3 linked regions of the Homo sapiens genome follow. The protein of the gene in region 1 purifies or fractionates together with the protein of each later gene. This does not show direct contact. Each region holds a gene or a part of one and is shown on either strand. Other genes may lie near its edges.

Region 1 (4,931 bases):
AGCATGCTGCCCTCAAGCATCTGTTTAACAAAGCACATCTTGCACCGCCCTTAATCCATTCAACTCTGAGTTGACACAGCACATGTTTCAGAGAGCACGGGGTTGGGGCTAAGGTCATAGATTAACAGAATCTCAAGGCAGAAGAATTTTTCTTAGTACATAACAAAATGGAGTCTCCTATGTCTACTTCTTTCTACACAGACACAGTAACAATCTGATCTCTCTTGCTTTTCCCCACACCAAGAGAAAAATTTTCCAGCATACATTGGAGGGGGCTCCAACACTTGCAAGGCTGGGAGGAAGTGTTTCCCATTTTTTTTTTTTTTTAGAAGGCAATTTAACAGAATTTGAGCAGAGGTATCAGATCCAACATGGACAGAGAAACTCACTCCCTGGGGGGCTGGAGTATCAGAAAAACAGAATTAACATAACCAGAAAGAACAGAAAAATCACAACAGCTAATACCACTTGCCACATTGCTGTAGCTTTAAGATTGAGGGAGGGGGACTAGAGGCCAGCCTGAGGTCTCCTGGGTCAGTTGGATCTAGGCGTTCTCCCTCTTCTTCTAGATCTGTACCCTAAATACCTTTGGTGTCTCCATGACTCAAAGGCAAATAGCTTAAATTTAGCTCTTTCTTTCAAGGGTTCAAGGAGCGAGAGCAGAGCCAAGTCCTGGAGACACTGAACTTGCTGTCGCAGTGGAAACCGAAATGTGCAGAGTAGGGGGCAGGGACGAGGGGGAAAGGGACCACTCAGGTCATTTTTAAGATGAGAGAGTAGCCACAGGGGAACAGAGTAGGAGTCTAAACGAAGTAAAGCATGACAGGTGTAGGTTTCCCTACACAGTGTTCTGTTTAAGGGCACAGGAAAAGTTACAGAATGACAAAAAAGGTGAGCAAGGAAATCTGCAGGGTGGCTGTTTTGAACCCACCACCGGTTTAATCTAGAGGAGGTCCAATCACTTGGATGTGGGGTATGGCAATCTAAATGCCCACAACTTCCATGGTGCCAGAGATTTCAATCAGATGAATGTTCTTCACACTCATTCCTGTAACAACACCTTACTTGCCTCTGGCAGAAAAGACAGGACTGTGGTGGCCAGCCTGAACAACCGATGAGAAATTTAACCTCTTGTGACAAAAAAATCAGCACTAAGGACCTTGAAGAAGTTTTTACCCAGACGTCTTGGGCAATACCGACGTCCTGACATGCAAAACCTTGACAACCACTAAACAAGACAATAAACACTAAGCAGAAAAATAAACATAAAACAAACAATTTGACCCTAGGGCAGGTAAACAGTTTTGACAGTTTTTTCCTTTTTTTTTTTTTTTTTTTTTTTAGACAGACAAGGGGGGGCCCTCCCGTGATGGGATCAGTCAGATGCCCACCTGGTCACTTCCCCTGAGGGGACTTGGGCTCCTCTTAGCATTGGCAGGCCGGTATAAACCCCCGGCTTGGATCGAGCTATGTCCGATGCTGCCTTAAGCCTTGTGAGGTCGCCCCAGAACTGCAGGTGAGGGCCCACTCAAACTGTGTAGCTTTCGCCGTGGAGCTACAAACTGGAAGACAAATGCAAGCCTTTGTCCTCCCACAGTCACTCACCATTCACAGAGTTTATAACAGTTTTTTTTTTCTTTCCTGGAGATTCTCCAAGAAACTTGAATAAGAGAAAGAGAGAGAGAGAGAGAGAGAGCGGTCTGCCAGAAACCAAGGCTCAGCTCCCCAGCATCCTGGGTCTTCAGCTAAGTCCAAGGGAGGGGCCTGATCAGGACCACTTCCCACCTAAACCAAGACACAGAGGCGCCTACCAGAAAACCAAGGCTCAACCCAGTAGCGTCCTAGAGTAACGGGCTGAGTCAAAAGAGGGATGCCCTCGTCAGGGCCACTTCCCTCTTACCAGAACCAGAACAAAGTCAAATCTGACCTACCTGACCCCGGGGTGAGAAGCTGAGGACTCAGATGTTGAATTTTAAGGCACTGACATGGTAGTCGATCCACTCTCCTCCGGAAGGTGGTCACTGTTTGGGGACCTGAAAATTCTTTCCTCAGGTGGTAACCCCCTCTGAGCCGGCCGTCCTTCCGGGGGAGCCCGGAGCAAGACCAACTCTCACCCAGTGGCATTAATTTCTCGCTGGGGCCTCCATTATGTTGTACCCGGGGTGTTAGAGAAAACGCCACACTTTGAGACTAATTAAGAGTCCTTTACTAGCCGGTGACCGAGAGACGGCTAATGCTCAAAATTCTCTCAGCCCTGAGGAAGGGGCTTGATTAACTTTTATACCTTGGTTTAGGAAGGGGAGGGGGGGTCTAGTTAAAACAATTTTACAGAAGTTAGGTAGTCAAAAAGTTAAAAGGATAAATGGTTACAGGAAAGTAAACAGTTCCAGGTGCAGGGGCTTTATGACTATTACAAGGTGATAGACGTGGGGCTTTGGGTGTTATCAATCAGATGAATTCTTGGGGACTGTGGATATAGCTTGCCACAGTATCTTATCAGTTAATTGCATTCTTGGATGTGCTGGGAGTCAGCTTGCACAAGTTAAGTCCTTGAGGAAGGGGCTGCCAGTGAAAGAGCCAAGATGGAGTCTGTCTGGCTCTCTTAGCTAAGGGAGAGTCTAAAAACAGAGTTAGTAAAAACCAGTTTGGGCATTACAAGTGTCCCAATTCAGTCAGGCTTTCTTCTTTCGTTCCATAAAGTACCAAATGCCTACCATGTGCCAGTCCCAGTGCTAGGCTCTGAAAATACCGCATGACCGAGGTAGACCTGGTTACTTCCTGTCTGGAGAGTACAGGGTAGCAAGGGAATCAGACATTAAACACAAGCATGCAAGTGAAAGTGTAAATACAACTTGCAGTGATTACTATGGAGAAGACAAAATGTAATAATAACGGGAGTCCTGTTTTAGATAGGATGGTCAGGGAACACTTCCTAAAGGAGACTGCACTTAAGCTGCAACTTGAGAAGTTACAGCAAGGGGCAGGGGAAATGCATTCCAGGCAGAGGGAATAGTCCCTGTGGATGCCTGAGTTGACACAGAACTTCCCGTTAGACAGGTCCAGTGTTCAAGAAGGGAGGCTTACCATGTGTCAAACACTGTGATGAGCATACAGAATATAGTGTTTGCGTACTGGTCGGTGGGACATCACCATCTAATGAGGGCCATAAACATAAGTAAGATCTTCATCTCAGCTGCTCAACTCTGCCTATGTAGGGCAAAAGCAATATGTAAATGACTGGGTATGGGAGGGTTCCAGTGAAATTTCATTTACAAAAACTGGGAGGTAGGGGTCAGGTGTGGTAGCTCATGCCTGTAATCCTAGCACTTTGGGAGATCAAGGCAGAAAGATCACTTGAGCCAGGGAGGTCCATGGTGGTACCACTGTACTCCAGCCTGGGCGACAGAGTGAGACCCCAAAAAATCCAGGAGGTGAGAGATGGGCTAGATTTGGGCTGAGGGCGGTAGTTTGCAGACTCTTGCTCTAGTCTAGATCAGTATACATTTTATGTCTTTACTCAGTGCATGTAACTCCAATATAATTGAAATAAACGTTTTACAAAACAGTGCTTACCATTGCAATATATGATAGCTTGATACTTTCTATTTCATTTTTTAAAATGTCCGTAATACTATTCACTAAATTGATCCAAGGCTCTATTCATGAGGTGTGACTAGCAGTTTGAGAAACTTGCTCAGTCATGGAGGTATGTACATTTTTAACTTGACTGGGTATTATATATACTTATATAAGGCATTTGGAACCTTTTCAGAAGGAGACAGAATATGAATAAATACCTCATTGTGTGTACGTTTTAAAATACAGATTGGATCCAATCGCTCCCCTGCTTTCCAGTCTTTTTCTAGGCCTCTCTTATCACTCACTCTGTGCTTCCTGTGCTCTAACCACTTGAAATTGCTCTGTTTCCCAAATGTGCCATGTCATGCTTTTTAAAAATGTGTCTTTTAGCCTTTTAGGTACCTTTTTATCTAGTTTGTTCCTTTTTTTTTTTTTTTTTTTGAGATGGAGTCTTGCTCTGTTGCCCAGGCTGGAGTGCAGTGGTACAATCTTGACTCACTGCAACCTCTGCCTCCCGGGTTCAAGCAGTTCTCCTGCCTCAGCCTCCTGTGTAGCTGGAGTCCCCGCCACCATGCCCAGCTAATTTTTGTATTTTTAGTAGAGATGGAGTTTCACTATGTTGGCCAGGCTGGTCTCGAACTCCTGACCTTGTGACCTCCCTGCCTCAGCCTCCCAAAGTGCTGGTATTACAGGCGTGAGCCACTGCACCCGGCCAGTTTGTTCCTCTTTTACTTTGTTTAGTGTATTCTTATTCTTCAAGGCTCATACCAATTGTTGCTCCATTAATTATTTTAACATATTTATGAGCGCTTAACTGTCCCTTCTCCTAGGTGCTGGGAATACAGCAAGGAATTAGACCAGTTCCCTGCTCTCTGGTATGGTGGGACAGATACTAAAAAGGTAAACAACTTAATTTCAGGAAGAGATAAAGACCATTAATAATATAGGGTGTATCAGTAAATTCATGTGGGCAGACGTAAGGTGCCTGGGGAAGATTTCTGAGGAGGTACTATTTTAGCTGAGACTTGAATGATGAAACAGAGGCAGATCTTTCAGCACTTAAATAATGTTGTTCCACTTCTTTCTAACTTCCATGGTTTCTGATGAGAAATCTACAGACATTTGAATTGTTGCACCTCTATAGGTGATACGTGGTTTCTATCTGGTTACTTTAGAGGTTTTTACTGTATATCTTTTAGTTTTTTCCATTTTAGCTATGATGTGCCTGGGCATGGATTTCTTTGGATTTATCATATTTGAGGGTCTCTGAACTTCCTGAATTTGGGGGGTCTCTGAACCTTTTGAATTGGAGTTTATATCTTTAGCCAAATTTGGGAAATTTCCTTCCTCCT
Region 2 (4,066 bases), on another chromosome or scaffold:
ATGCTGACAAGTCCAGGACAGGCCCTGGAAGCCAACAGAATAAAGACTAGAATGGTTTCCCTGGCTGGGTGTCAGCTGTCCTCACTGGCAGCACTGTGGTGCCTTGGAGTGTGGCCAGAGAAACCAGGGGGCCTTACGCCACTGCAACCTGGTCTCCTCCTGGTAGAGTGAGTCAGTTTGACCCTTGCCCCTTCACAGCTCCTGGGTAGGCTCTGAGGCTGGCTCTTAGCTTCTGGGGAAGGAACAATGACAGCTGGGATTCTCTTTCTAATTTTAGGTTCTAAATCCTGAAAAGGTAGGTGTGCTGTCTTAGGCTCCTATTACAGTACCAGGCATACCCCACACCAGTCAGGTATCTGTGTGTACTTCTGTAGGGTGGTGGAAACTTTTTAGATCTGTCTATGGCCTCATGCTCAGTCCCAGAAGCCCAAGGAAGGGCCTGGGACTGAGCCCAGTAGCAGAGAATTTTAAAATAAGAAACAGAGGCCAGGTGGCTACGTCTGGACAGCATCCATCCACTCCGGCCTGCTCAGCCTCCAGGTCAGAAAGCAGGAACTCAGCAGGGCTCTGGCTGCCTCCAGAATCCCATGCTTTGGACAACAGCCAGAACTGCTGTGCTCCTGCTCCACAGCCTGACGTGAGGAGGGAGGGAAGGAGGTCTAGGGAGGCAGATGCCAGAATCCCAGCTAGGGTCCTACCACTACGTTCTGTTCAGACAAGGCAGCTGGCTTGCAGGAACAGGTCTCAGCTGAAAGTCACTGCCATAACCTCGAGCCTTGTGTCTGGAGGCCGGGAAACAGCACTGGCGTGCTACAGGTACTCCCCCAGCCCAGGCAACATTCAGAATCATGAGTGTCAACAGATGCATGCACACACAAACAGGCACACCACTCCCTCCTCTGCACACGCGCACACACACACACATGCTCGCTCTATCTCTGCCCGGTGATCAGCTTCTCTGCAGGTTGTACTCTGCTGCTGCGGTGGCTGCTTGGGCACCCAGGCTTTGCTCACGGAGCAAGGGCTCTGCAGCTGGAAGAGAAAAACAAGTGCAAAAGGAGCATTCAGGAGGCTGCTCAGTTGCCCAGGGACACAAGCTCCTCTGGCTGCTTCTCTGGGGACATTCAGAGCGGGACCTGAGAAGAGCTGAAAGAGTGAGCTGAAAGGGCCACGGTACCTGGGGACAGGTTGTTGCTGGGATGCCACTGGGATGAGGGAATACTGCCCCTCTGAGGTGCTGATGCAGGACAAGCTCCCCACTGCAGGCCCTCCACCCAGGGCTGCGGACAGCAGAGGAGGAGGAGGACAAGGCTATGTGAGAGTCACGTGAAGCCCTGGGGGATACTTGCTCAGATATGACAAGGGCAGCTTCTGAATCAAGGCACAGCAGCTGCTGCCAGAGATGGAGAATCAGGAAAAAATGGCTGGAAGAGAAGCCCGCTGGGACCAGTAATTTTGAAGAGTAAGGCAATGACTGAGTTTACAATCAGCAGGTGAGCACATTTCCACATATAGATGAAAGCACCCTGGCACAGTGCTGGAAGATTGTGGGGGCAGGAGGGAGAGAGGAGACACAAGGATGACTCATTTTAAAGATTTATGACATCCGGAATCTGGGGCAAAGAGAAGAAACAGCTTCATCCCTGATAATAAAGGAAGGACAGAGTGCGCCTGTCACAATGCTGAGTTGTCTGTTTAAATAGGTTTAGTGTGTCTGGGAGTCTACAGAGACACACAGCGTCCCATTAAAAGTTTGTGCAGTTTAAATGTGGGTGAGGTAGACAATAAGTAGGCTTACTAAGCCTGCCGTGGGTCAGGTACTATACACTTGTGCTGTGGCTGAATTCTGTCCCCCACAAAATTCTTATGTTGAAGTCCTAACCCCCAGTACCCCAGAAGGTGACTGTATTTGGAGACAGGGTCTTTAAAGAGGTAATTAAGTTAAATGAGGTCATTAGTGTGGGCCCTAATCCAATATGACTGGTGTCCTTAAAGGAAGAGGAAATTTAGACCCAGACAGTACAGAGGGAAGACCATGTGAAGACATAGGGAGAAGATGGCTGTTTATAAGCCACAGAGAGGAGCCTCAGAAGAAAAGAAGCCAACCCTGGCAACATTTTGATCTTAGACTTCCAGCCTCCAGAACAGTGAGAGGACACATTTCTCTTGATTAAGCCACCCAGTCTGTGGTACTTTGTCATGGCAGCCTGAGCAGACTAACACAACTTGAGATCCCAGTAACCTTGAAGCTTGCCCTCCATTTTTGTAGATGAGAAAACAGAAACCAGAGAGGAGAAGGAACTTGCCCAGGACAACAGCATTCATAAGTGGCAGAGCCAAAAAAGGAAATCCACATCTGTCTGATTCTCAAATCTGTCTTTTTACTAGCAAGTAATCTCTATACGATAGTATTGCTCATTAAGACTTTTAGAGAAGAAGACTTTTAGAAGAAATTCAACATGGCAGCATGAAGACTAATATCCAACAGACATACATGTGAATTAAGCTGTTATTAGAAAAGGGAAAATGCTCTTAAAGTCAAAGACATTGGAGACAAGGATTCAGTATCATGCGATGCTTTTAAGGCCGCATGGTAAATCTGAAGCAGATTTTATCTGATGATAATTTATCTGGAAGCTGGGCAAAATAAAGAGCAGACATAAGAGTGGGTGCCTGTATAGGTCAGTACTGTGTGTCTTATTCTTTTTTTTTTTTTGAGACAGAGTTTCACTCTTAGTGCCCAGGCTGGAGTGCAATGGAGTGATCTTGGCTCACTGCAACTTCTGCCTCCCAGGTTCAAGCGATTCTCCTGCCTCAGCCTCCTGAGTAGCTGGGATTACAGGCATGTGCCACCACACCTGGCTAATTTTGTATTTTTAGTAGAGATGGGGTTTCTCCATGTTGGTCAGGCTGGTCTCTAACTCCTGACCTCAGGTGATCCACCCACTTCAGCCTCCCAAAGTGCTGGGATTACAGGAGTGAGCCACCGAGCCCGACTTTTTTTTTTTTTTTTTTTTTTTTTTTTAATAGATGGAGTCTTGTTCTGTTGCCCAGGCTAGAGTGCAGTGGCGCGATCTTGGCTCACTGCAACTTCTGCCTCCTGGGTTCAAGCAATTCTCCTGCCTTGGCCTCCCAAGTGGCTGGGATTACAGACACCTGCCACCACAACTAATTTTTGTACTTTTAGTAGAGATGGGGTTTCACCATGTTGCCCAGGCTGGTCTTGAACTCCTGATCTCAGGTGATCCGCCCCCCTCAGCCTCCCAAAGTGCTGGGATTACAGGCGTAAGCCACCGCACCTGGCTGTGTGTTTTATTCTTTAAAATGTGTGTTATTTTCAATAATTTTTCCCTTTAAGCTTGTACTATAATAACCTAGCCATTTTTTTGCTACAAATGTATGTATTATTAAGGTGTACATGTATTTATTGAAATGTGCTGATTCTGAGTATATACTCCACACACAGGGCTCTCTCTGGCCCCTGTTGTTAAACTAAAGAGATGGCTATTCTTCTGAAATAGAAAACTTTCAGGATTGCAGGATATACCACAAAAGGTCCTCCTTGCCCAACACCTCCATTTTTTTTGTGTGTGTTTTATCCATTTTCAGGGATGGGGGAAGATAAAGAGTGCATGAAGATTCCTTAGAATAACTGCTGTTAATCTGGGGTTCCTGGGCCTTAAGGAGCCCAAGGATAGGCTTTGGTGCAGTCCATGGAGCCTCTGGAGTGATGTGCACATTCCTCTCTGTGTGTGAACATATGCAGTTTTCTGGGTATGGGTTCCATCCTCCATCGACTTTCCAAAGTGGGGAGTAACCCAAACAGGGTTTAAGAACCAATGCCTAAGCTTAGAAGATAAGAGGGTGAGGTACAGTCAGGTGGATATAATGATAACAATTCAGACATATGTTGACTTCGGCACCAGTTAGTTTTGGGCAGGCTCATGAAGGGAGGGGGCAGTGTCCTGGACTCAGATAAGCCCTAGTCACCCAAGTCCCTCTATGATGGTTTCAAAGCTACCAATGCAGAAAACCAAGGTTTAGAAGAACCAACTTGGCCTCGCCT
Region 3 (4,931 bases), on another chromosome or scaffold:
AAAACTAAGCAAAGTGTCCAATTTATTTTATATTTTAGTTTTATTTCTTTAGAGATGGGGTCTTACTCTGTCGTACAGACTGGAGTGCAGTGGTGCAATCATAGCTCACTGCAGCCTTGAACTCCTGGGCTCAAATGATTCTCTACCTCAGCTTCCCAAGTAGCTAGGGCAACAGGCACTTGCCATCATGCCTGATTTTTTTTTTTTAAGACATGGAGTCATGCTATTTTGCACAGGCTGGTTTTAAACCCCTAGCCTCAAGCGATCCTCCTATCTTGGCCTCCCAAAGTGCTGGGATTATAGGTGTAAGCTACCATGCTAGCCTTGTATGATTTAAATGTGTAGTTTATTTTAAGTAAAATTATGCTTTAATAAGAAAACAAAAAACTGGCCAGGAGCAGTGGCTCACGCCTGTAATCCCAACACTTTGGGAGGCCAAAGCGGGAGGATCACTTGAGGTCAGGAGTTCAAGACCAGCCTGGCCAACGTGGTGAAACCCCGTCTCTACTAAAAATACAAAAAAAATTAGCCGGGCATGGTGGCGGGTGCCTGTAATCCCAGCTACTTGGGAGGCTGAGGCAGGAAATCACTTGAACCTTGGAGGCAGAGGTTGCCGTGAGCTGAGATCATGCCCCTGCACTCCATCCTGGGTGACACAGCAAGACTCCATCTCAAACAAAACAACAACAACAACAACAACAACAACACCACCACCACCTAAGTAGGCTGTACTTCTGCTGAAGTCTATAAAAAAGTTGGTTAATCATTCTAAGAGACGTCCCCTTCAGATGCCAACCTCACACAAGAATAAGCTAGTGATTCCCCAAGGTTTATGGGATCCTACTAGCAGATATACAAAGTAAATTATCACAATTACTTAATAACTACTTTAACACTCATCCTTGCCCACTGCAAGGCCAAAGGAAGCATTCCATTTGCTTAAGCAGTAGACTAAGACCATAGCATTTTTAATGGATACAGCAAAACAACTTGTGGGCTGGCTCCAAGGCCTCGGACTGCCCCATGAGCCCTATCAAGGAAGTTCCTGAGATGATATCTCCATTTATGGAAGAGAATTAGGAGGCAACCATCAGCAGGGTAAACAGTTACCTGACCAGGAGTGGCCACCGAAGGGCACTTTGGTTCTGGGCAGTTGAGGCATTGAACCTGGCCATCTCTGATCTGGATTTCAAAGTAGTCCTTCAGACAGGCTTTGCAGTACACATGCCTGCACTCCAAGAAGTACATGCATTCACTACCCAGCTTCTCACAGAAACAGATACTGCACAGGAACAATTTACTATTAAAGCATTTTATCTGCTGAGCTTGATCAAAGTCCAAGATTTCCTGGATCAGATTTGACAGTGATTCCACATCCTGCACTGCTCTCTCATCCACAATTTCCTCTTGGTCTACATCAGATCCAGCAGCTCCTCCAAAATCTAGCTCTGTGTTGGGAGAAGCTTGAGCTGTCCTTCTCTGCACTTTTTTCTGAGAACCAATCTTGAGCTCAAAAGGAGAGACAATATTCAAGTATGCTAGGGTCTCTTCCTTAAGAAATTGCATCCAGGCAAACAGGACCACGCTGCCACGGTGTTCTTCCCATAGGTTGTCTAAGTGCTTGCATAGAGCAGATAGCTAGGAGAAAACACATGAAGATGTTGGTGAGTTTGGAAAGATGATGCTGCTGCCAACTCCTGGTTTCCCTAGAAATCTTTTCCACTTGCAAGTTAGGCCCTTATTCTAACACTATTTTTTACTGCTGTGATACACTGTGCTACATACAAAACAGTACAAACATTCTTACTGGAGCACTTCTTAAACTATTCGGCAACATGAGCCAGAGTAGAACATAAAGTCAGAAGCAAGAAGTACCACGAGAAGAAGAGAAATAGCAAGACTCCGTAAGGTAGAGAAATAGCTGTACATTTTAGCCACTGAAATGGAAGACTTTTTTCTGTTCTTTAATCTTTTAGTACTGCCATATACCTCATGTAGGACAAAGAGATCTAGTTCTAAAAATAAACTATTTTTCTTCCATTAGGAGTCCTAGCCCTGTTCGTATCCTAGAATAATGGTTAGAAAAAGAATAGTTTAAAAATACTATCCAAGTTTTAAAATTAATTCTTTCAGTTTTATCAAAAAGTCAACTCATCTGAAACAATCACTAACAGAATTCAACCTCAGAGTCCTTGTTCAGATTTACAAGCTGCTTTTAAGTAAGCAATCTGGGCTTATATCAGATCCTGGTTAATGGAGGGAAGCTGCCTGATATTGACCCTGGTCCTAATCACAAGCCCTCAGCAAGGTTTGGCAGCCATAGAGAAAGCTTACACTTCCTAAGCTAAGCAACCAAAATTAAATTATTTGGAATTTTCCTCTTTAAAAGTGGTCTGTTCAATTTGAAAGGCAAATGTTGGAGAATTTTCCATTAGAAATATAAAATATTTTTAACTAGAGCACAGGAATTATAAGCAGCTTTTCTTTTTTAGGTAAACATCCAAAAATATGCCTTCCAGATGGCAAACAAATTTTGTAAATTTAAATGACAAATGAAAAGGGACCAGATTTTCTGTTTCTTACACTCTGTGTAGTGCCACTGACTAAACCCTGCATAGGTACTACCTTAAATACTTATTGATGAGTTAAGATTGAACAACTAATGATTTTTCACATTTGCATAAATATCCTTATAAATCAACCATGCTTTTGAGAAATCTGCTAACATCTGTAAAATGTGATAAATACTAAAAGGGAAGCTATGAGTGCTGTGTGAGCTACCAAGTCCTATGAAGAAGCCATTCTCCAACCTCTTTTCTACCCCAGTCCCTTCTCAAGAGAGGCAGCTGGGGCTGGGCGTGGTGGCTCATGCCTGTAATCCCAGAACTCTGGGAGGCCAAGGCGGGTGGATCACCTGAGGTCAGGGGTTGGTGATCAGCCTGGCCAACATGGTGAAACCCTGTCTCTACTAAAAAATACAAAAAATTAGCCAGGTGTGGTGGCGGGCGCCTGTATTCCCAGCTACTTGGGAGGCTGAGGCAGGACAACCACTTGAACCCACTAGGCAGAGGTTGTAGTGAGCTGAGATTGTGCCCCTGTGCTCCAGCCTGGGTGACAGAGCAAGACTCCATCTCAAAAAAAAAAAAAAAAAAAAAAAAAAAAAAGAGAGAGAAAGGCAGCTGGAATGCATGTAAATGGAAGGGGGACGGGAAAGAGACTGTGTAAGTATATTGGGGGAGGAATAAGGAATAAGGTTTTAGAAAACTAAAACCACTTCCCTCTGTCTACCCGCCCCAATTCAGGGAATGACAGCTCTATGTGTCAATTTCACCATTAACAGGTGAGAGTCATAATGCCAAGGAATCAGGGTACAGCAACAAACAAGAACTGAACCAAGAAGGAATATAAGAGACCAATTAAAATGTTAATTATATGCATAAACATTTATTTGATTAAGAATTCTACTGTAATTTTAGCTGTAACACATAAAACAACTCTCTTCCCCAGCACACACCTCCGCCCCCAAATCCAGCATTAAGTAGATGCTGGTTGGCTGGAATCTGAAACCACAACCACGCATCCAGTTAATCTGTCCCTGTTTTGTGCGTGTGTGTGCATGCACGTGCATGCACGCACATGCGTGGATGTAAAGTATGAAAAGCTCTCTGGTGAAATAGGACTATGAAGATCTAAATAATTAAGCCAACTATCAGTGGCCTAAATGCCAAACAGTCTTGATATTCCTGGACAAATCAACTGTCTTGCATCTGTTGCCTCTGGCACAGACATTAGAATGTAAAGTAATACTCCTTTTTATTCTACCTGTGTTATCCTTTTTAAGGTTTAATTTTGCTTTTAAACCATAAGCTCTAGTTTGTGAAAGTACTCTCACTTAAAAGATTAGATTGGTGGATGGGGAAATGAAAACTGTATGATCCAAAGAGAAAAACTAATGAGCTATTCCTTGAGGTCAGCAACTCTGACATCTTTTGTCTTTTTCTTTTTTTTTTTTTTTTGAGACAGGGTCTCTGTCTGTCACCCAGGCTGGAGTGCAGTGGCTCAGTCTTGGCTCACTGCAATCTCTGCCACCCAGGCTCAAGTGATCCTCCCACCTCAGCCTCCCAAGTATCTGGGATTACAGGGACGCACCACCACACTTGGCTAATTTTTGTATTTTTTGTAGAAATTGGGTTTCGCCATGTTGCACAGGCTGAGCTTTTGTCTTAATACACATTAGTCTATTGATCTTCATTATGACTTCTAGAAAAGCAGCTGCTGATTCATTATCTCTCCCAGAATGCTTTATATTATTTATATTTAGCTTCAAGCCATATTTATGTCTCAATCAAGAGTTGAGGTTGTTACTAGAAAAGTATATATAACCCAGAGGAAATGAGGTGCTTAACATAAGGCCTCAAGCCTTACTGAGATATCTACAGGAACTATACACATTTCTACTTGTATGCATTTATGTCTACGTGATACCAGTTGACTGTTATTTGTTATTAATACAGATTTTTACAAAGAAAATCAGTTATTGTATTCACTCAGAAAATTTGCTTATTATAACTACATTAGCTCAATTTTTAGTCCTAATTACAATGGAATCTTTCATTTAAGGAATGGATAAGAAACTAAGAGAAAAGTAGTATCAATGTCTAAGGAAAATGAGGAAGACCTCTTAGTCTCCATTATAATACAGATTAAACAGGAAAATAGCAAGACAAGAAAAGAAATAATATACTTGATTAAAAATTACTCCTACTACAATTCATGATTGTTTTAATTACTGCCATTCCTTTTTAAAACACCAAACATTTTCAATTTCTTAACATCAGGATTCACCAAGGCAAGGGAAAAAAATTACAAAACCAAAGCCATTTGTTTTTCATGCACTGAATTCAAGATCTTTAAGATAGTCTTCAATTAAA

Evidence for each region. Proteins that work in one complex are often made in the same cells at the same time.
Region 2: the proteins of DET1 (region 1) and CRY2 purify together in Homo sapiens (affinity purification with western blotting; one study listed by BioGRID). This does not show direct contact.
Region 3: the proteins of DET1 (region 1) and RNF14 purify together in Homo sapiens (affinity purification with western blotting, with the first as the bait; one study listed by BioGRID). This does not show direct contact.

The regions. Positions count from the first base shown.
Region 1 is NC_000015.10:88,535,860-88,540,790, reverse strand, and holds part of DET1 (DET1 homolog), read left to right. Parts: intron 1-4,409; exon of another isoform or gene 4,410-4,456; coding exon of another isoform or gene 4,457-4,479; intron 4,480-4,931. UniProt on the Homo sapiens protein: Component of the E3 ubiquitin ligase DCX DET1-COP1 complex, which is required for ubiquitination and subsequent degradation of target proteins. The complex is involved in JUN ubiquitination and degradation.
Region 2 is NC_000011.10:45,877,880-45,881,945, reverse strand, and holds part of CRY2 (cryptochrome-2), read right to left. Parts: intron 1,033-4,066; 3' UTR 1-1,032. UniProt on the Homo sapiens protein: Transcriptional repressor which forms a core component of the circadian clock.
Region 3 is NC_000005.10:141,975,010-141,979,940, reverse strand, and holds part of RNF14 (E3 ubiquitin-protein ligase RNF14), read right to left. Parts: intron 1,639-4,931; coding exon 1,111-1,638; intron 1-1,110. UniProt on the Homo sapiens protein: E3 ubiquitin-protein ligase that plays a key role in the RNF14-RNF25 translation quality control pathway, a pathway that takes place when a ribosome has stalled during translation, and which promotes ubiquitination and degradation of translation factors on stalled ribosomes.